2 separate regions of the Homo sapiens genome follow, and region 2 is linked to region 1. The links come from fine-mapping of genetic effects on gene expression. A gene starts in region 1. The other region holds a variant in brackets. All regions are shown on one strand. Distances are between the middles of the regions. Region 1 holds the start of RYK (receptor like tyrosine kinase). Region 2 overlaps RYK (receptor like tyrosine kinase).

Region 1 (2,914 bases):
CCTCCTTATCAGCCTCTCCTTTTCCCTACCCTTCCCTGAGGATAAAAATAACCGCTTCCCAGGGCCTCACTGCGATGGAGCAACTGTGCCCCGAAGCCAGGCCTAGCTGTCAGAGCAGCTGCTCCCCGAGGCACGGCCCCGCGAGAGCCTTGGGGTCAGGACGGGGGCCTGTCCGCAGGGACGAGGTGTCCCAGGACAGGGCAGGGGCCCTTGGAGCCTCACCAAGAGAGGGGGCACTGGTGCAAGTTTGACCGCGATGGTGGGCGGCTCACAAAAATACATCAGGAGGCCCGGAAGTCCATGCACTGGCTGGCTCCACCGCCTTTAAGTACACGAGGTCTATCTGCAGTTCTTAACCTCTTTGAGGGCACAAGGACTCCCTAGAACAAATGATGACATACCACCTCTCTGTGTGCAATCAAGCATACACACAACACACAGAAACATGGACGTGGACACAAATACGCACGGAGACACATACACTTTTGCACACAGTTTCATATTATTGGAAGGCTGTCGAAGCCTGGTATGGACCACAGATTAACAACCCCAAAGGCAGGTTGATTATAGTGATGCAGAACGATTATAAAAAAAATAACAATTTGGCAGGGCGCGGTGGCTTACACCTGTAATCCCAGCACTTTGGGAGGCCGAGGTCAGTTGATCACGTGAGGTCAGGAGTTCGAGACCAACCCGGCCAACATGGTGAAACCCCGTCTCTACTAAAAATACAAAAAAATTAGTCGGGCATGGTTGCGGGCGCCTGTAATCCCAGCTACTCGGGAGGCTGAGGCAGGAGAATGGCTTGAACCTAGGAGGCAGAGGTTGCAGTGAGCCGAGATCGTGCCAGTGCACTCCAGCTTGGGTGACGGAGCAAGACTTCGTCTCAAAATAAATAAATAAAAATATAAAAATAAATAAAATTTTGTAACGTAAAAATAGGGTTAGTAAAGCGTGCTAAGATCTTTCTGGAAAACAAATATATGTAGTATAAATTCTAATAATAGATACGGAAACGATAAAGTTGATCACCGATGGTAAGATAAAGGATGATTTCTATTTATTTGAGTTTTCCCACTAAACAGGAAAGCATGCTGCTTTTTCGCAACCAGAACGGCCGCATCCAGGCGTTTCCGGGGACCTGGGGCGCCCACTGAGCTGCAGGCGCGGCCGGTGGCTCCAGCCTGGCCCGTCCGTCGGGAAAGGAGGGTTACAGACAATAGACAAGCAAACATTAGACGCAGTGACCGCGTGGGGCGGGGACCGGCTCTTGCGGAGAGGGTGACCCGAGCCCTTCGCCCGCCGAGGCACTTTAAAACCCCAGCGCGTTGCCCAGGCCGGCCCGCCCAGAGCGAAAGGTGCGTGCGCGCTCCCGGGGAGGCGGCGGCGCGCACGGGCGCGTCCCGCGGGCAGCCCCCAACTCCGGACGATGCAGCGAGGAGGCGGCGGCGGCGGCGCGCTCCGGAGGTCTGAAGCCACTGCTGGCTGCCACGGGCCGGCGGTGCGATGAGCTGGGCAGCCGCCCCCGGCTCGGGGCTGTGAGCGGCTCGGGGCCGGGGGTGGGCGGCGGTGCGGCGGGCGGCCGACGCTCCTCTTCGGCGGCGGCGGCGGCGGCCATGCGTGGGGCGGCGCGGCTGGGGCGGCCGGGCCGGAGTTGCCTCCCGGGGGCCCGCGGCCTGAGGGCCCCGCCGCCGCCGCCGCTGCTGCTTCTGCTTGCGCTGTTGCCGCTGCTGCCCGCGCCTGGCGCTGCCGCCGCCCCCGCCCCGCGGCCCCCGGAGCTGCAGTCGGCTTCCGCGGGGCCCAGCGTGAGTCTCTACCTGAGCGAGGACGAGGTGCGCCGGCTGATCGGTGAGTGGGGCCGCCGAGGCCGGGGCGGGCAGGTCGGGCCGGCTGGGGCAGCTTCCGGCCGCCGGCGGATCAGTCTGCGAGCCGTGGACCTCGGGCGAGTACCCTCCCCGCCCCCCGCGCCCGGATTCGCCTCGCGGCCCGGTCTCTGCCTGCCGTGCTGGCTGGGAGGTGTGGTCCCTGCCCGGTCCCCAGCTCTGGGTCAGCCTTCGTGCCGCCCTCGCTGCCCCGCCGCGATAGACCCAGATTCACCCCATCCCATCCTCCTCACTGCCTCCTTAGCCCTTCTCCCTAGAAGAGTCAGTCACCCTTACAACTTTTTTTCCTTGCTGCACGAAGTTTTTTTGACGCTTTCTATGTGTGTCACTCTAGGGCCCTCGATTTTGAATATCTCGAAATTCACGTTTTAGACTGAACTTGCAAACCCTTTGCTGTGGTTTTGATGCTCCAGTAGAGGCCACGCTCTGTGCTTACCCTTTTACAAAAAAAAAAAAAAAAAAAAAAAAAACGAGAGAGAAAGAAGGGGAGGTTATAAGGGCACCAAATGTTCGTGGCAGCCTCCAACTCTTGGGACGTAGATTTGGAGCATATGCTTAGATTCTAAGCATATTTTTAGTGAATGAATCGCCAGGTAGCAGACCTTTTTAGTTTCAATACCTTTTTGGTTTTTGCATTGGGTGTGTTGGGAGTTTGGACTGACTCTGTACTTCTGGGCCACTCTCCTACTTTTGAGTATCTTGAAGGGAAACAAGAACTTAGTCTTGGGTCGGTTTGTGGTTCCATTTACTTGCTTAGCTTTGTTGTTTGGGGAATTAATTTGAAAAATTGCTGGGGTCTTATGTTAGGACTTTGTGGATTCTGGAAATGACCCCTTAGAGGAAGATCTGACAGGAACGACCCCCCAAAAAGGAAGTCCTTGGTACCTAGACGTTTGCATTCTTTTGTTATTATGGCAGTATCTTTATTTCATCTGAAGGTGGTGCTTCTGAGTGTTTGAGGGGAAAAATTATTCTCTATTGCATCCATTATTTGTCAGTATTCTATTTTTTTTTAAGTAATAAGACTTTGT
Region 2 (2,914 bases), 39 kb after region 1:
ACTTCTGAGGAAAGCCAGGTTGTGGGAGAAGGTGGGAAGACATTTGTGAAGAGGCAGAGAGTGTAGGAGGCTGTTCTGAATAGGGAGGTTCTCAGAATGGGGAAAAAACAGAAGGCCTGCAACAGTGTTCTTGACAGACCCAGGAGGGTTTGTGTCAGAATCCCTGGGGCCAGCAGTGGGCTGATGATTATGGAGAAGTGCAGCATGGCAATAAGGTAGCTGTTCTGGAATGACTGCTGATGCTGCTGATGTCAGAGGAGACTTGTGCCAGGCTAACAGTATGTATTGCATTAATGATCTTATTTGATCCTCATAACATGTATTACCCTTATTTTACAAAATATGGAAACTCAGAGAAGTTACAAATTTACCTAAGAGTCACATGGTCTCATGGTTCCAAACCCAGTTCTTGCTGGCGGTGCTGATTTCTTTTGTGCACCTACCCTTCATGTATGGTCCTGTTCAGAGATAGCATCGGTGTAGGGATGTATAATGCATTCTTTGATGTATTGCTGGAGAGCTTGCTCATTCCCTGCCCAAACTTGCTTGGCTGTGGCTCTCTAGCACCCCCTGGTGGCAGCAATGGTATTGTGATATGCTAAGGTGAATGTGAACACTTCCTAGCCAAGGTACCTCGAAGTCACTGATGTGCTGCAGCAAGAACATTTCCTTTGTTGGGAATGTGGCACTTATCAAACACAGCCTTTAACAGTTGTTTACGTACCTATCTTAACTGCAAAGGAAGAGTTTAATGTTTGCATACCCCTACAGTGTTTAGCTAAGACACTTTAAATAGAGTGTGAAAGGAGAAACCCCAAGGGGAATCAAATTCTGGACTGAGCCCTTCTTATTCATGGGTAACAACGCCTTCCACCTTAGCCCAAGCGTAAGGGCCATCCCTTCCCTTATATCTGGGATGATACTCTTTCCCTCTTTTCTTTCATCTTTATTATGTACCATTTCGTTAGCTTTTTTCACTAGCATATATACATATTTGAATATCTCATCTAAAAACAAAGAAAAGCTTTGGAACACCCCCCACTTCACCATCTGTCTCCCATTCTTCTAGTTAAGTTTCTTGAAGAATGGTTTATCGAACATCTTTCTTCTCACTCTTTTCCCAACCTGCTGCCTCGTGGCTCTGCAAATCTCAGTCTGCCACCAATGATACCTTTTGTGACCACTGAATGAGAGAGGGATACCATAGTTATCAAGAACCTGTGGGCAGGGCAGAGAGTGATGTGAACTGTAGGGCTTCATTGAAAGTCTTGATGCTGGCAGCCATTCTGAATTTCAGCTATTGCTTTGCAGTTTGAGCTGCTTCTTTCATGAACTCTCCATAGCAACAGAGCCTTAATTATTGATGCTGATTGGTTCTGTTAAGCCACATTGGGTAGGCCAAGTATTGATAGATAACATTGGTGTTTTAGAGACATCTCATGGGTTGCCTGTCTTCCCTTCTGGATTCTGAATCACTTAAG[AAGT/T]AGATCCAGAGGTCAAATGGGGATCTAAACATGAACTTTCTTTTTGGTGAGAGCAAGACTAGAGGATGTGACTTAGATATTCTATGAGAAATCTACCTTGGAATCTGCTTATTGTGTGAGTGGGTCTGCAGAGCAGACCTTCCTCCACCAGCCACAAGGAGGCCCTCCGAGCTTGGCTTTCATTTATCAACCAGAGAAGGCATTGGTAGCTATTTATGGTCTGTCAGTTACATATCTCACCGCTTTGGTTCTTCATATCTGGCTCTCCATGGCCTCTCTGTCAGTGCTGCATAGTTCTCAGCAGGATTTCTGACCCTAGATGGCAGGTTTTATGGAAGAGTGGTGGTCCTGTTGTGGACTTAAAATAGAGGGTGGCTTACTTGGTTGAATTTTTATCCAATTGAAAATTCTTAGGACTGTTTCTGACAATTTGCATTTTTTTATAGCTAGATTATTTGTACATATGAAAGGCTCATCCATTGATTAATGAGCCAATTAATGAAGTCAAGCTGATAGTATCCTTCTTGTTATCACAGGTCCATTTTGTTTATTTTTGTCTATTTTACAGGTTGAATATAAGCTGGGATTCCAAGTGGACAATGTTTTGGCAATGGATATGCCCCAGGTCAACATTTCTGTTCAGGGGGAAGTTCCACGCACTTTATCAGGTAAGTAAGAGTCTTCAAAGACAGAGTTAACATACTTTTTCAACTGCATCCCCTATGGCCCCAAAACAGAAGTTTACTGATGTGTAGTGTGTATTACTTGATAGGCATAAGATGTATGAGTACTGTGAAAAGTAATTTTTGTAAATATTTGCACTGTGTTCTTAAACCATTCTCTCTTTTCTGTCCTTCTGGAACTCTCTGTGCTCCGCCCTCCCTGTCTCTTTTTCTGCATTGCTGGTACTTACCTCCACATGAGTCCCTGTGCCTGATCTTGTTTCCCTTTGATTAGGCACCACATTTCACCCTGTGGCCCAGATGATCTTTGCACGGTCATGTTTGACCCTGTGACGTGAAGCCCATCAGTGCTCTCCACTCCCATCAACTGAACATTCCAGACTCACCACCTTGTGTCCTGGATCCTTTACCATCTGCCCCTGCCTGCCTGTCTAGCCTTGTTGCTGCACTTGCCCCAGAGTTGTAGCAGTTCCAGACTACATGCAGTTCTGATCTTCAAGCCTTTGCATGTGCTGGTCTCAGTATTTGGGATCATCTTTTCCTCTTTCTGCTCGTGAACTCCTTTCTATTCATCCTACTCATTCTGCAAGACTCAAGATCTGCACTGTCTTTTTTCTGCCACCTTCTCTTCTTTCATTTGTTAACTTCTATTCTTCCTACCCCTTAGAACCTTATATTTAACTGTTTTTGCACTGATTACATATCTAGCAATTCCCTTGATGCATAGCATAGAGTATGGTGCAGGAT

What was found. PIP is the estimated chance that this variant, and not a neighbour inherited with it, causes the effect.
Region 2: its variant is fine-mapped to the expression of RYK in blood mononuclear cells (TOPMed, PIP above 0.99).

Annotation. Positions count from the first base shown.
Region 1 is chr3:134,249,357-134,252,270 of GRCh38, reverse strand. It overlaps RYK (receptor like tyrosine kinase), which reads left to right and starts at 1,412. Exons shown (of 15, transcript NM_002958.4): 1 at 1,412-1,848. The coding sequence starts at 1,617. RefSeq lists a silencer at 1,238-2,057 and an enhancer at 1,393-2,171.
Region 2 is chr3:134,210,746-134,213,659 of GRCh38, reverse strand. RYK (receptor like tyrosine kinase) reads left to right here. Exons shown (of 15, transcript NM_002958.4): 3 at 2,053-2,152. Among named protein-coding and RNA genes, the nearest start is that of RYK, 39 kb to the left of the region's middle. The variant AAGT/T (reference allele first, on the strand shown) is at 1,482.